2 separate regions of the Homo sapiens genome follow, and region 2 is linked to region 1. Evidence: fine-mapped expression QTL. Tissue or cell type: left ventricle. Region 1 holds a variant in brackets; the other region holds the start of a gene. All regions are shown on one strand. Distances are from middle to middle.

What was found. PIP is the estimated chance that this variant, and not a neighbour inherited with it, causes the effect. A credible set is the group of variants that fine-mapping cannot tell apart.
Region 2: it holds the start of TSEN54, and the variant in region 1 is the best candidate, but not a certain one, in a credible set for the expression of TSEN54 in left ventricle (GTEx, PIP 0.65).

What each region holds. Positions count from the first base shown.
Region 1 is chr17:74,992,861-75,001,004 of GRCh38, forward strand. It overlaps CDR2L (cerebellar degeneration related protein 2 like), which reads left to right. Exons shown (of 5, transcript NM_014603.3): 2 at 6,644-6,756. Among named protein-coding and RNA genes, the nearest start is that of CDR2L, 9.3 kb to the left of the region's middle. RefSeq lists enhancers at 612-1,113, 1,114-1,613. The variant G/A (reference allele first, on the strand shown) is at 4,368.
Region 2 is chr17:75,512,452-75,520,451 of GRCh38, forward strand. It overlaps TSEN54 (tRNA splicing endonuclease subunit 54), which reads left to right and starts at 4,077. Exons shown (of 11, transcript NM_207346.3): 1 at 4,077-4,165; 2 at 4,295-4,459; 3 at 4,558-4,621; 4 at 4,710-4,793; 5 at 5,106-5,204; 6 at 6,544-6,596. The coding sequence starts at 4,110. CASKIN2 (CASK interacting protein 2) reads right to left here and starts at 3,086. Exons shown (of 20, transcript NM_020753.5): 1 at 2,950-3,086; 2 at 1,260-1,757. The coding sequence starts at 1,353. RefSeq lists enhancers at 2,196-2,762, 3,857-4,151 and silencers at 2,936-3,545, 3,936-4,315.

The DNA.
Region 1 (8,144 bases):
ACAGCCCAGACACTAACCTGGAAGTGGGGGGTATGATGTTGCACTGCACTTGGCCTTTCTTCACTCACCTCTGATGCAGTGGCTTTGCACTCTAGTTAAGCTGCAGGGGCTCCATGAAGGCCACTTACTTGGAGCATGTCCTCCGACACCCACGGCAGGAGGTAGAATCAGTAGCAATGGCCTCTTTGCAGACCATGTAACAGTTTCCAAGGGGGAAAACATTTAGGAGAGTAGCCCTCTGATCTCTTTCATGTATATCTGAACTGCTGGATACTGTTCAGGATGAGCTAAATTTGAGTCCCACTATGGAAAACAGGAAGATAGCATGGCTGTCTCATCACAAACTGAAGGTGATCTTGCCCGGCTCCTGAGTCCTGAGTTACTGCCATGCGCACAATATAGTACAGGGCTGTAGTTCAATCTTTTTTTTTTTTCAAGACAGAGTCTTGGTCCATCGCCCAGGCTGGAGTTCAGTGGCACAATCTTGGCTCACTGCAACCTCCGCCTCCCAGGTTCAGGCAATTCTCCTGCCTCAGCCTTCTGAGTAGCTGAGATTACAGGTAAGCACCAGCACGCCCAGCTAATTAATTTTTTTGTAGAGACAGGGGTCTCACTATGTTGCCCAGTGCAATGATCTTTACATCAAACTTTACAATTTGTAGATACCTCCAGACTTTTGCCCAACTGACAGGTCATAAATTCATACAGCATATATCCGCATTCCCTTACTAGGTTTATGTTATGTAACTAGTTTTTTCTTGGCATCCTCATCAGAAGGTTAATTGCTCAAGGCTAAAAGTTCTTACCTATGATTTACATGATTTGGTTTCTTTGTTGTTGTTGTTGTTTTCAATGGCTGAGGAAGATGTTTGGGAAAGCTGCCTTTGTTTTTTCAGGCTAAGTTACTGCAGCCTTGCTCTAGGATAGCAGCTTTGCACTCCTTCTCCAGATGACACAGGGCCCTCCTTTGGCTAAAACCCAGCCCTGGAGGCTCCACTTTGGCTGTTTCAAAACCTCACCTCTGTGCACAGGATCAGACTCCGGATTTGTTCCTGTGGGGCAGTTCAGCCTTTATGTCCAGGCCCAGTGGCTGGTCTGGCCCCTCTGCCTCTCACAAGGCAATGTCAGTTCTGCCCCCAGCTTGGCTGAAGGCCCAAGGCTCTGCCCTCAGCTGCCCACCAAGAGTCACTGCTTGCCTGGGCTCATCCCAAAGGAAAACTTCCACCCCAGGTCTAGGTTTCTTTTCAAAGACATCCCTTGGGCTCCCCAGCTATTATTTCTCAGGCCTCTGTCCAATGCATAGCAAGGGCTCAGCCGAAACAACCGTATCTAGGAAACTTTCTGTCCGGGAGTATAGAGCCTATCCGTCCTCCAGAGACCCTAGAACTATCACTATGTCTAAAAAGGGAAAGCAGTAGAGAACTGGATCCCTGAACCACATCATATTGGCCCCAGTAGAGTTGCCTTTATGCATCTTGATCTGATTTACATCGTCAGCCTAGATTGAGAGCTGTTTTAAGAAGCAGCCTCATAAAATGAAACAGACCAGTGCTTTCCTGGACAGTCTTTTGACAGAATGCCTCAAGAAGGCCTACCTTTTGTCCCAGGAATTGTATTTCTAGGAATTCTGTATCTAGGCCTACCTTTTGTTCCAGGTACCTAGGCTTACCCTTTGTTCAAGGAATTCTGTGTCCTAAGGAATTGGGCGGTGATTTGCACAAAACGTTTTGTACAACAAAGTTAATTAGTTTCATTCTTTTTTTTTCAGAGATAGGGTCTTGCTTTGTCTCACTGGAATGCAGTGTTGCAATCATAGATGACTCTAATCTGAAACTCCTGGACTCAAGCAGTCCTCCCACATCAACTTCTCTAGTAGCTGCGACCACAGACATGCACCACCATGCCCGGCTAATTTTACAATTTTTTTGTAGAGATGGGGTCTCGGGTAGGGCGCGATCCCAACACCTTGGGAGGCTGAAGTGGGCGGATCACGAGGTCAAGAGATCGAGACCATCCTGGCCAACATGGTGAAACCCCGTCTCTACTAAAAATACAAAAATTAGCTGGGCGTGGTAGCACGCGCCTGTAGTCCCAGCTACTCGGGAGGGTGAGACAGGAGAATTGCTTGAACTTGGGAGGCAGAGGTTGCAGAGTGAGCCAAGATCTCATCACTGCACTCCAGCCTGGCGACAGAGTGAGACTCAGTCTCAAAAAAAAAAAAAAAAGAGATGGGGTCTCACTGTGTTTCCCAGGCTAGTCTCTAACTTTTGGCCTCAAGCTATCCTCTCACCTCAGCCTTCCAAAGCACTGGGATTACAAGCATGAGCCACTGTGCCCAGTCTACACTTTCTTTTTTTTTTTTTTCTTTTTGACAATGTCTCACTCTGTCACCCAAGCTGGAGTCCAGTGGCACAATCACAGCTCACCAAGTAGCTGGGACTACAGGTGTATGCCACCACACCCCACTAATGTTCTTATTTTTTGTAAAGACAGGGTCTCATTATATTGCCCAGGCTGGTCTTGAACTCCTTTACTAAAGCAATCCTCCCACCTCGGCCTCCCAAAGTGCTGGGATTACAGGCGTGAGCCACCATACCCGGCCTGGCCTCTAATTTTTAAATCACCAGTTTGTTGTTGTTGTTTGTTTGTTTGTTTTGTTTTTTTGAGACAGGGTCTCTCTCTGTCACCCAGGCTGGAGTGCAGTGGCACAATCTCGGCTCACTGCAACCTGTTTCCCAGGTTCAAGTGATCCTCCTGCCTCAACTTCCCAAGTAGCTGGGACCACAGGCACATGCCACCACGCCTGGCTAATTTTTGTTTTTAGTAGAGACAGGGTTTTACCATGTTGGCCAGGCTGGTCTCGAACTCCTGACTTCAAGTGATCCACCCTCCTCGGCCTCTCAAAGTGCTGGGATTATAGGCATGAGCCACTGCACCCGGCCTAAATCACCAGTTTTTAACCTTTCTGTACTGTTTGATTTTTTTACACCAATCATGCCTTATGAAAAACATTAAAGCTATTTTAAAAAGAAAACAGCCTTGTGAAACTCAGCCTCAGCCTGCTCTAACGACCTCTTTGAGGACCCGCTCTCTCCCACCCTTCTCCGTCTCTGGATTAAGCTGCCTAAATCTTTTTTTTTTTTGACAGATTTATTGAGATTTAATTAACACACAATACAATTCACTCATTTAAAGTGTGCAACTCAACAGTTTTTATTATATTCACAAAGTTATGCAACCATCACCACAATCAATTTTAGAATATTTTTATCACCCTGCCTCGTTTTAGAAACAAAAAACAGGCCAGGCACAGTGACTCACACCTGTAATTCCAGCACTTTGGGAGGCCGAGGTGGGTGGATTGTTTGAGGTCAGGAGTTTGAGACCAGCCTGACCAACATGGTGAAACCCCATCTCTATTAAAAATACAAAAATTAGCTGGATGTGGTTGTAGGCGACTGCAATTCCAGCTACTTGGGAGGCTGAGGCAGGAAAATAGCTTGAACCCGGGAGGCGGAGGTTGCAGTGAGCCGAGATTGCCCCACTGCTCTCCAGCCTGGGAGACAAAGCGAGACTCCGTCTCAAAAAAAAAAAAAAAAGAAACAAAAAATAATAAATATATTTAATATACATATGTGTGTTGTTGGGAGGATTGTATCCACTCCAAATGTCTAGCTATCATCACACAACTCAGACCCACCAAGAGAATTTTTAGGGATTTTAGTACCTGCCGTTTCCTTCTAACTCCTTCTCTCTACCCGCCCATCCCCCACAACATCCCCCTAAAAACAGACAGATTCCCTCCTAGCCTATCTGATGGGTCCTCATTTCCCTTGGACTGGGGTCAGGGAGGGAAGGTTCCAATCCTACAGGGTACAAGCACCAGGGCTGTTGGGGGAAGAGGATGTTTCTGCTCCTCAGGGAAAGAAGGTTTGAGAGCTGGGCACATGTCACTAGGGTCAAATGGTACCCAACCAGGAGCCCGATACCTGAATTCTCCCCCTAGCGTGGACATAAACCAGCTGGGTGACCATGGGCAAGTCACTCTGCTGTCCTGCTCATTATCCATAAAATCAAGAAGTTGGGCCAAGAAGTTCTGAATCATCTTCCAGTTTTAATATTCAGCAAGCCCTTCTGCTCTCTCTGCCTCTCAGCAAGCTCCTATTCACCCTTTTCTTTCTTTCTTTCTTTCTTTCTTTCTTTCTTTCTTTCTTTCTTTCTTTCTTTTTTTTTTTTGAGACTGAGTCTCGCTCTGTTACTCAGGCTGGAGTGCAGTGGCACGATCTCGGCTCACTGCAACCTCTGCCTCCCAGGTTCAAGCGATTCTTCTGCCTCAGCCTCCCAAGTAGCTGGGATTACAGGCTTGC[G/A]CCACCACACCCAGCTAATTTTTATATTTTTAGTGGAGATAGGATTTCACCATGTTGGCCTGGCTGGTCTCAAACTCCTGACCTCAAGTGATCTTCCCACTTTGGCCTCCCAAAGTGCTGGGATTACGGCGTGAGCCACCGCACCCAGCCTCCTATCCACCCTTCAAAGTCCAACTCGAAAGCTGTCCATTTGCCTGAGCCTCCCGGGGAGAGTGAAGCTCTCCCTTGCCCATCACCCCACGGCACCTTGCCCCTATGTCCGTCCATGCTCTTATCACTCACTTAATCTTCCAAAAAGACAAATTATGCACTGATTCTGTCCTAGATACTGTCCTGGGTCCTGGGGATATTCATGAGCAAAACATAAAAATCCCTGCCCTGCCAGGTGCGGTGGCTCACGCCTGTAATACCAGCATTTTGAGGCCAAGGTAGGAGGGTCGCTTGAGGCCAGGAGTTCAATACTAGCCTGGGCAATATAACAAGACCCTGTCTCTACAAAAAAAATTTAAGAATTTTAGCCCAGGTGTGGTGGCTTATGCCTGTAATCCCAGCATTTTGGGAGGCCTGAGATCAGGAGTTCAAGACCAGCCTGGCCGACATGGTGAGACCCCCTCTCTACTAAAAATACAAAAAATTAGCCGGGCGTGGTAGTGGGTGCCTGTAATCCCGGCATAAAAAAGATTTTAGAAGTTAAAAAAAAAAAAAAAAAAGTACCGGGCACGGTGGCTCACGCCTGTAATCCCAGCACTTTGGGAGGCCGAGGCGGGTGGATCACGAGGTCAGGAGATTGAGACCATCCTGGCTAACACGGTGAAACCCCGTCTCTACTAAAAATAAAAAAAAATTAGCCAGGCATGGTGGCGGGCGCCTGTAGTCTCAGCTACCTGGGAGGCTGAGGCAGGAGAATGGTTAGCGTGAACCTGGGAGGCGGAGGTTGCAGTGAGCCAAGATCGCGCCACTGCACTCCAGCCTGAGCAAAAAGAGCAAAACTCCGTCTCAAAAAAAAAACATTGTACTATTCCTGTAGTCCCAGCAACCGATATTATAGTCCCACGCCTATTCACAGGCATGATCATATACACTGTAGCCTTGAGTTCCTGGGCTCAAGGGATCCTATCCCAGGCAGCCGTATTGCACCACCTTTCTTTTTTTTTTAATAGAGATGAGGTCTCACTATGTTGCCCTGGGAGGCTGAGGGAGGAAGATCGTTGAGCCCAGGAGTTCAAGGCTGCAGCACATATGATCACACCTGTGAATACTCACTGCACCCCAGCCTGGGTCCCATCCCTTAAAAGAAAAAAAAAACTGCCCCATGAGCTCACAGTTAGTTGGGGGAGCTGAAAAAGATAAAGGAGTAACTTGCTTGGGAAATTAGATGGTGCTAAGTGCTAAGGAGAAAGATGAAGCGGGGGAGAGACTGCAGGGCAGGGAACAGTGTGACTTTGAATCAAGTGATTGGGGAAAGATCTAGAGAAGTTGACAGGCACAGACTTGAAGGAGAAGAGGGAACAAGTCCTGGAAGTATCAGGAAAGAATATTCCGTGCGTGAGGCTGGCTTCTGGGTTGTCCACACCACTCTCTGCTGTGTTGACTTCCTGTTGTCTTCATCAAAGCTTTTTTCCGTGGTATTCTAAAATTAGGCCAGCAGTGGGGCTGGGAGGGCATCTGTGTTAGTCCCTTCCTGGCTGTGATCCGCCACACTCACTGTCAGTATTAAGGCCCAGCAGCCTGTTGATAAGCTACGCTGTCTCACCATGCGCTGGTGTGGAAACAGGGCCCAGCCAGCATGCCTCAAGGTAGATGGAATCCCCACTGGTCAGAGAAGAAGCCATGCGGACACTCCAGCTTGGCCTGGGCACAGCACTGACTCCTCACCCGCTAGTCTGGCTGTTAAGAGGAGAAGGTGCACTGCCTTCCAGCCTAGGAGGAGGACAGCATTTTGTATTTGTTCCACTGATGCAGCTTAGAACCACACCCCTGAGAATCGTGGCAAAACTTTCACAACCTGGAAAATGTTGAAAGCAACCATTCCTATTTTTGTTTGTTTTTTATTACATCTTGCACACACACACACACACACACACACACAGACACACACAAAAAGAACATTCCAGGCAGAAATAACAGTGCAAAGGCTTAGCTCCTGGCTTACCTCTCCTCCCAGGCCTGGAGGCTCCCAGTGTCTTGGTTACATTGGGGTCACCTAGAGTAGATGCTCGGAACATGAATGGGCGTCCTCTGCCTTTGTTCTCATGCTCGTGTTTCTCCTATCCTAGACTTGCACCTAGCTGCGGAGCTGGGGAAGACTCTGCTGGAGAGGAACAAGGAGCTGGAGGGGTCCCTGCAGCAGATGTACTCCACCAATGAGGAACAGGTGCAGGAGATCGAGGTGAGGGCCCTGCATGTGCTTGCCCACACCCCTCGAGGGCCCCTTGGCCTGTGTGTGCCTTTATGCAACTTAGAATAAGGTGCCAGCTTATCGGACACAGCCTTAGCCCAATAGCCTGGTACAGTTCACAACTGTGCTATCCTGTACAAGGATAGCACAGCTATCTCAGGCAGCCCTATTGCACAACTAGATTTTTTTTTTTTTTAAATAGACACCAAGTCTCACCATGTTGCCCAGGCTGGTCTCTAACTCCTGAGCTCAAGTGATCCTCCCACCTCAGCGTCCTAAAGTGCTAGGATTACAGGCATGAGCCACCAGGCCCAGCCTGAACCACCATTTTTAAGCCCCACTCAGCTGAAGACAAATACATCAAAGCAAACTTGTCCTTAGAAGGGGAGAAGGGGCTGCTGGCTCATGCTTGTAATCCCAGCACTTTGGGAGGCCAAGGTGGGTGAAATACTTGAGCCCAGGCAACATGGCGAAACCTTGTCTCTATAAAAAATACAAAAATTAGCTGGCTATGGTGGCATAAGCCTGTGGTCCCAGCTACTCAAGAGGATGAAGTGAGAGGATTGCTTGAGCCTGGAGGTTGAGGCTGCAGTGAGCCGTGATTGTGCCACTGCACTCCAGCCTAGGCAACAGAGCGAGACCCTGTCTTAAAAATAAATAAATAAAATAAATAAGATTTATTTCTTTTTTGAAATGGAGTCTCACTCTGTCACCCAGGCTGGAGTGCAGTGGCGCGATCTGGGCTCACTGCAGCTCTGCCTCCCGGGTTCACGCCATTCTCCTGCCTCAGCCTCCTGAGTAGCTGGGACTACAGGCGCCCACCACCGCACCCGGTTAATTTTTTTTGTATTTTTAGTAGAGACGAGGTTTCACTGTGTTAGCCAGGATGGTCTCCATCTCCTGACCTCGTGATCTGCCCGCCTCAGCCTCCCAAAGTGCTGAGATTACAGGTGTGAGCCATCACGCCGGGCATAAAAAAGATTTTAGAAGTTAAAAAAAAAAAAAAAGGCCGGGCACAGTGGCTCACACCTGTAATCCTAGCACTTTGAGAGGCCAAGGCGGGCAGATCACGAGGTCAGGAGATCGAGACCATCCTGGCTAACACGGTGAAACCCCATCTCTACTAAAAATGCAAAAAATTAGCCAGGCATGGTGGTGGGCACCAGTAGTCCCAGCTACTCAGGAGGCTGAGGCAGGAGAATGGTTGGCGTGAACCCAAGAGGTGGAGCTTGCAGTGAGCCGATGTCGCGCCACTGCACTCCAGCCTGGGCGAGAGAGCAAGACTCCGTCTCAAAAAAAATAAATTAATTAATTTAAAAAAAAAAGAGGCTGGCGTGGTGGTGCATGCCTATAATCCCAGCCCTTTGGGAGGCAGAGGT
Region 2 (8,000 bases), 520 kb after region 1:
TGGATCCCCCACAGCCCGGTCAGGTCTCGAGGCTAGGTGAAAATCTCCAGTAAATGAGCTCTGGCCACACCCCACCAGGACACACATGTCAGGGGAAGAGAAACTTTAGCAACTTGTTAGAGAGTGTTGAACTTTTTTTAAGCAGTAGAATTCCCTTTTTAAAAGCTATCTCGTGGCCTGGTGCGGTGGCTCATGCCTGCAATCCTAGCACTTTGGGAGGCTGAAGCGGGTGGATCACCTGAGGTCAGGAGTTCGAGACCAGCCTGACCTAGATGGTGAAACCCCGTCTCTAGTAAAAATTAGCCAGGCGTTGTGTCAGGCACCTGTAATCCCAGCTACTCGGGAGGCTGAGGCAGAAGAATAGCTTGAACCCGGGAGGCAGAGGCTGCAGTGCGCTGAGATCATGCCACTGCACTCCAGGCCGGGTGAGAAAGCAAGACTCCGTCTCAAAAAAAAAAAACAGCTATCTTATAGATATCCTCTTAAGACACGAACATAGAGGTGCTCTGGTTGAAATGTGTGCGTTTGAGGTTGGGGGTAGGGATGAAGTTCTATCTATTCAGTCTTCTCTAACCCACTGTCAGAAATCTCATGGCTCCAAAGAACACATCAGAAAGACCATCTGCTAGAAGGCAACTCCACGAAGACAGGAATTTGGGTCTGTTTTGTTCACTACTATGATCCAGTGCTTAGAACAGAGCCTGAGCCAGGCACAGTGACTCACGCCTGTAATCCTAGTACTAGGAGGCCTACCTAGGTGGGTGGATCACTTGAGGTCTGGAGTTCGAGACCAGTCTGGTCAACATGGTGAAACCCCCATCTCTACCAAAAATATAAAAAAAAATTAGCCGGGCATGGTGGCACACACCTGTAATCCCAGCTACTAGGGAGGCTGAGGCAGGAGAATGGCTTGAACCCAGAAGGCGGAGGTTCCCGTGAGCCGAGATCCTGCCACTGTACTCCAGCCTGGGTGACAAGCTATAGGCACTCAATAACAATGTGAATGAACGTACTTCAACCCTCTAATTTTGCAGGCCAGGAAACTGCAGCCCAGAGAGGTTAAGTGACTTGCCTAAGGACACACAGCAAGGGGGACCCAACTTTCTCTCTGGCTCTCTCACACAGAGGCACTTCTTACTGAGAACAAGACAGTCCACCCTCCTCAAATATGCAGATCACAGTGACCCACCCCCACCCACCAAGCCTCTGTGAACTGAGCGCTCGGCCTCAGCGGGATGCTCGTCCCACCCGGTACTCACTTGTCTTTGTGGCCTTGACCTTCGCCACCAGTTTCTGCACACCGGTCACATCTCCATTCTTGACGGCGAGGATCAGGTCCTGTTCACGACCCATACTGGCTCCTGGGCTGAGCTCTACACTCAGGAGTCCAGGGCAAAGGCAGGCAACGGGTCCAAGCTGGGGCGTCAGGGCGCCATGCCACAGCCCCTTGGAGGGCTCCCGGTTCCGGGGGAGCAAGTCAGGTGTCCCAGGCAGTGGGCTCCTCGTCAGGTACTGAGGGATACTCCCAAAGGTGCTCCGTGAACTGCCACCACACGAAGGAAAGCTAATCTTTGAGGGGGTGAAGGCTACATGGAAATCTGGATGGATATCAGCTTGTGGCTTCCGACAGCTCCAGGATGGGCTGGGACTGGGCACACCAATCTTCCCGGCTTGGCTGTGGAACACCAGTGCCCACCCAGAGAGCAGCCAGCATTCCCTTGGGCCTCAGGCAGCAGCGGTGCACTGGTCTCAGGGCTCTGGAAAAAGCACGGGGCCTCTGTCGAATGCTGGGCCACAGCCTGCAAGGGTCCCAGAAGTGGAGTGCAGAGGATGAGCAGGACAAGACCTCCAGGGAGCCCCCAAGCCACCCTGGCTCCCCTCGGAGTCGATGGTGATGCTGAGCCACTGAAAGTGGGGAGGAAGCTGCTATGCATGAGAGGAGTATTGGTGGGGGGGAGGTGGCATTCTGGGAGGGGGAGGCTGAGTCACTGGGGCCCCAGGGCACCTGGCAGTACCTCAACCTTGGGCAGGAGGGGCCCTGGCAGCATGACATACTGGGGCAGGCCGGGCCAGCAGCCTGTTCTCCACAGCCCGAGGCTCCGACACCCACAGACAACTGGCGGGCCAGGAGGTGGGGCCGGGAGGGTCAGGCACAGGCAGGCGGGCAGGGGTCACTCCCTGTCAAAGGCACCAGCCCCCAGATTCCTCCCTACGGAGGCTTCAAGGCTTCGCTTTAATGGCTGGATGCCCTAGTCCTAGGACTCTTTGTGAACGGAGAGCATGAAGTGCTTCTGGCCCCCCATTTCTGGGGGCTCTGCCTGCTAGAGAGGGAAGCTGCACAGCACCTGTTGCTGACCCGCCCTCGCCCCTTGTGTCGGGTGGAGGAGCAGCTGGGCAGAGAACAGAGAGAGCTGGGGCACTGCTGACAAACGGGGCTCCCAAGCCCCCCAAGCCTGAACCTGAAGCCCAGACCCTGGACTCCACCGCAGAGAAGCTTACGTCAGTTTCTCGGTGGCAGCGAATTTACTGCCAGAGTCTTGTGGCATGAGATCCGCGCAGGCCTGGGGCCCTGGCCGGGAACCCCTCACTCCCCAAACGTCCCAAGCCCAACCCAGGGGCACTCCCACGCGGAGCCCGCGGCCGACACGGGCGGAGGGCGCCCTTGGCAGTGCCTGGGGTCGGGCTGGCTCCCCCGCCCCCCGGAATGTCCCTCCAGCGCCTCGCAACCCCCCAGCCCAGCCCAGCCCAGCCCAGGCCCACCGGGGAACAAAGCGGCGGGAGAAGCCGGGCGGGCCAAGCGCCCGAGGTATAAACGCGGAGGATGGAAAAAGGGGCGCGAGGAGGACGGAAGGAGCGGGGAGATGGAGGTGCCCGCCGACCCCGCAAGAAAAGTTAGTTTGCGCCCGCCCCCAGGGGCGCTGACCCCCAGCGCGGGCCCCGCAGCCTCACCTCTCCCGGCCGCCCGCCGGGGTCCGGCTGGCCCTGCTCGGTCCCTGGCACTCAGGACGGTGGCTCCCACTCCCCCCTGCCCCCCTTTCTCCTTCTCCTTTTCCAAGGCCGGCTCGGCGCCTCCCGCAGGAAATCCCGCCCCTCCCCCCTCCCTCCCGCCGGATCGGGAACGGAGGGACCGTCCCGGCCGCGCAGTCAGGCTGTCAGTCAGCACCGGCGGCTCCGCCCCCATCCGCGCCAGATCCCGCCCCAACTCGTGCCCGCCCGGACCGGGGGCGCTGACCGGATCAGCGCATGCGCCCAGGTGAAACGGAGGGGCGGGGGGCGCGGGGGCAGAGGTGACCTGGGGCTCTGGACTTAGACCCAAGGGCTAGACACCCCGGGTCTGACTGGTGGGAGAGAAGACGTAATGTGAAGGGGGTTGGCAACCAAGACGCGGGACCCCACTTGCAGTACCCCCCGTCTGCGGCCGGCGTCGCCCACCCGCAGCCGCCGGCCGGGCAATGGCACCACCTAGCGGACGGCACCAGTGCGGGGACCCCAGCCTCGAGGAGGCGCTCGTGCCGGGCGGAGGTGGCGCTTCAGCACCGTCGTGGGCCGGACAGCGCCTCCCGCCCCCGGCCCTCGAAACCTGGCTTCGGAGCCCAGCCGTAGGGACCGGACGGAAGACACCGAAGGAATGGCGAACCTCCCCGGACCGCTCCTGACAGTTCCCGGGTGGCCTTCGGCCTGCAAAGTCGGAATTTGCACACCCTCCGCTCGTCCTTCCCTGAGCCCTTCTGCCCTCCTTGCCCAGCCCGGGCGGTGGGGACTAAGCAGCGCGAGGCTGCAGAGGGGCGGTCACAAGTGTGACCATTCGCACTGCACTCCAGACGCCGGCTCCTCAGGCTTTACTGGAGAGAAGCCCCGAGGAGGGCTAGGGGCAAAAGAGGGGCCTTCTGCATCTCCAGCAACCTGCGGGCTGAGCTCCCAGACCCGGCGTCGGGGTGCGCTTCCGGGCGGGCGCTAGGACCGGGGACAATCAGGAGGGCGCAGAGCGGGCTGGGGCGGTGCAGGGGGCGGGGCTGCCGCGGCATTGCGGATCGGCGGGCACTAGGGCAGCGCGGAGCTCCGGCGGTGGGCGGGGCGTGGCGGCGCGCGCAGCGGCAGGCGGCGGCGGGATGGAGCCCGAGCCCGAGCCCGCGGCCGTGGAGGTTCCCGCGGGGCGCGTGCTCAGGTGCGGCGCGGCCCGGCCGGAGTGGGTGTCGGGGGCGCGGGGCCAGCGCGGGTAGGGAAACCGGCGCCCGGGACCCGGCCAGGCGGCCCCCGATGCGCGGCGCTGACCCCGCGTCCCCTTCTCCCCCAGCGCCCGGGAGCTCTTCGCCGCCCGCTCGCGGTCGCAGAAGCTGCCCCAGCGCTCGCATGGCCCCAAGGACTTTCTGCCCGACGGCTCGGCAGCTCAGGCCGAGCGGCTGCGCCGGTGCCGGGAAGAGCTCTGGCAGCTGCTGGCAGAGCAGCGCGTGGAGCGCCTGTGAGAGGGGCGGGCCCAGGGGTAAGGGAAGCGGGGGCGAGGCGGGCCGCGGGGTCTCCGGAATGGACTGACGCAGACCCCTCCCCACTCCTCGCCAGGGGCAGCTTGGTGGCTGCCGAGTGGAGGCCAGAAGAGGGCTTCGTGGAGTTGAAGTCTCCCGCGGTGAGCGGCGGGCTCGGGGACCGGGGACCGCCCTCCCTGCCCTCCCTGCCCTCCCTCCCTTGTGACACTTGCTCTGGGCCCCACACAGGGCAAATTCTGGCAGACCATGGGCTTCTCAGAGCAGGGCCGGCAGCGCCTTCACCCGGAAGAGGCCTTGTATCTTCTGGAGTGTGTAAGTGGGGCCCGGGAGGTGGGGAAGGAGTTGGGACCAAAGAACGGGAAGGACACGTTTTATCGGAGAAAAAGCACACACAACCCGGTCTTTAGAGAACTGATAACCAAACTTCTAAAGCAGGAGGTGGTACGTTGCAGGGAGCAGGGATTCCAGTCCACATTAGTGATGCTGCCCCACTTTCCTGGTTGGCCACATTCTTGATGCGCTGCTGAGAGGGGGAGGGGGAGGTATCAGAGCTGGGAAGTTGCCCCATTCCTCTGTGGCACTGTAGTGAGGGCTCATAAGCTGAGCTGTTGGCCCCACTTCCAGGGCTCCATCCACCTCTTCCACCAAGACCTGCCACTGTCTATCCAGGAAGCTTACCAGCTGCTGCTGACCGACCACACTGTGACCTTCCTGCAGTACCAGGTATCTGCCACCACCCCGCCTCCGGGAGCCACCCATCCACTGAATCAATGAGTATTGACAAGTACCCATAAGGTGCCAGGCACAGTGTCACATGCTGGGGCTGCAGGGCAGACGAGGGCTATGCTGTCACGAGGCTTACATTGTGGTGGTGGCCTGTTGGCTTCACATAGACCCCAGTGCTGTCAGAAGATAAGGTGGGGGAAGAGAATCCAAAGAGACTGGGCTGTTCATTCAGGTGAGAGAAGCTAGGGGCTTGTCGCAGGTTGGGGGTGGGTAGAGTTGCAGTGAGTGAAAAATAGATGAATCTCAGAAATATTTTGGAGAAAGAATGGATAGGACTGCCAATGGATTGGATGTCAGGATTAAGGAGAGAGAAGAACCCAGGATTACCGCCCATGATTTGGGCATGCACCAGTGGATGAAGGTGCTGTCATTTTCTGAGTGGGAAGAATGAAGAGGAGCAGATTTGGGAGGACAAGACCAGTCGAAAGAACTGTGTCAGATAAGTTAATTTTGAGGAGCTTCTTGGACATCCAAGTGAGTGTAAAGCAGACAGACAATTGGAATCCAAGTCTGGAGTGTGAGGAGAGGTCAAGGCTAGATGTAAATATGGGTGCCATGAGCACATGGATGGTATTTAAACTACTGGGCTGTATGGGAGTGCCATCAGAGTAGAGGGCTGGGTCTGAGCCCTGGGGCTCTCTGTGTAGGTTAGGGGGCAGATAAGAAGCAGAAACAGACCGAGGAGTGTCTGGTGATGCAGGAGAAAAACCAAAGTCGCATCACAGAAGCCAAAAGAAGGTCTTTCAAGGAGGAAGTGGTTAGCTGTGCTAAAGCCTGCTGAGATCAAGCAGGATGGGGGACATTCTTATCTATGTTCCTCTGATATGAATGCAGGGACACAAGGTTGAATATGTGGCTCCCTACCAGAAACTTCCCACCGGCATCTGTGGAGGTGTGGGGCTGGAGAGATGCCCACCACCTGCCATCATTTTGTTCACATGGTGATCGGCAGCTTCACTCCTATGAGCTTTGTATCAAAATACTCAAGTATTTCAGGGCGTGGTGGTTTTCTGGTTTCATGGCTATCAGTTTTTTTGGATTTGGCTAAATGTCATTTGTGCCGAGTAAGGTAAGTGGGAGGACAGGAATTCAGAGCCTGAGATCTTTAGGGATGGTGTTCGTAATGAAGCATGGTCCAACCTTAATCACAGGGTTTAGAATCTGGGGGTGTACAGGAGGGGCAGAGAGGGCTGTGGGGATGGCCTGTGTCTGGAGAAACCATTTGGTGTTTTCCAGAGTGGCCATCTGAGCTTTCATTTTTTTTTTTTCTTTTGAGGTCTTCAGCCACCTGAAGAGGTTGGGTTATGTGGTTCGACGATTCCAACCAAGGTAAATCCCCTTCCTGTTCCCCTTCCATATATTCTAGTCCTGGGACCTGGCTGACTAGTCTAAGGTAGAAAATGGCCTCTCCTTACCTGGAACCCTTGGCTGGAGTGCAGTTCCTTGGGCACAGACTGGGGGCGCCTGCTGGAAGCGTTCTGAGAGAGGCAGGTTGGGAGGAATCCAGGTCATTTTGTTTTATTCTGGTTTATGAACTCGAGCCGCATCTTCAGATGACCTGCGCCTGCAGCTGAGTGTGTGTGAGCACTGAGAGGCAGGATTGGAACAGTGCCTGGCACTTAGTAGGTGCGCAGGCAGGTATGTAGAGTGTATGCTTAAATGAAGGACTGGGTGAAGAATTTACCATTAGTAGGGTTTCACATTTTTCATGCCAGGTTAAATGTTTTTTCCTTCATCACCTTAGTAATCCAGCATTGGTAAAAGGCAGAGACCTTCAGACTTGGAGTGGAAACGGGTACAGCTTTTGCAGTTACAGTATGTCACAAAAGCTCTAAAGCAGGCACATCTTTTCTTTTCTTTTTGAGACGGAGTCTCACTCTGTCGCCCAGGCTGTAGTGCAGTGGCATGATCTCAGCTTACTGTAGCCTCTGCCTCCTGGGTTCAAGCAGTTCTCCTGCCTCAGCCTCCCAAGTAGCTGGGATTACAGGCGTGTGCCACCATGCCTGGCTAATTTTTTTATTTTATTTTATTTTTAGTACAGATGGGGTTTCACTGTGTTGCCCAGGCTGGTCTCGAACTCCTGACCTCAAATGATCCTCCCGCCTCAGCCTCCCAAAGTGCTGGGATTACAGGCATGAGTCACCACGCCCAGCTCTACATCTTTTCTTTTCTGAAAGTGGAACCTATCCTAAGGAAATAATCGTGGACGTGTACAGTGGTTCACCTGTGAGAATGATCAACGATATTTATTATTTGCTGGGGGTCAGGCCCTGTACACATCGCTGAGAACAGAAGAGCAAAATCACTGCCCTCACAGAGCTTGCATTTAGTGAGGAGTCACACAGAACACACTCACTGTGCAAAATCAGTGTACTTGCAAACAAGAGTTGAACAAGAGGCAGGCTCACACAAATGAGAGGTTATCCCTTAGAGCAGCTCTGTCCAATAGAACTTTCTGTAATGATGAAAATGTTCTGTGTCTGTGATGTCTAATACATGGGGCTAGAGCAACTGTGGGACTGAATGTTTAATTTCATTTAATTTAAATGTATTTAAATCTAACTTAAATAGGCTGGTGTGGTGGCTCACGCCTATAATCCCAGCATTTTGGGAGGCCGACGCGGGCGGATCGCGTGAGCTCAGGAGTACGAGACCAGCCTGGACAGCGTGGTGAAACCCTGTCTCTACTAAAATACCAAAAAAAAAAAAAAAAAAAAATCAGCCAGGTGTGGT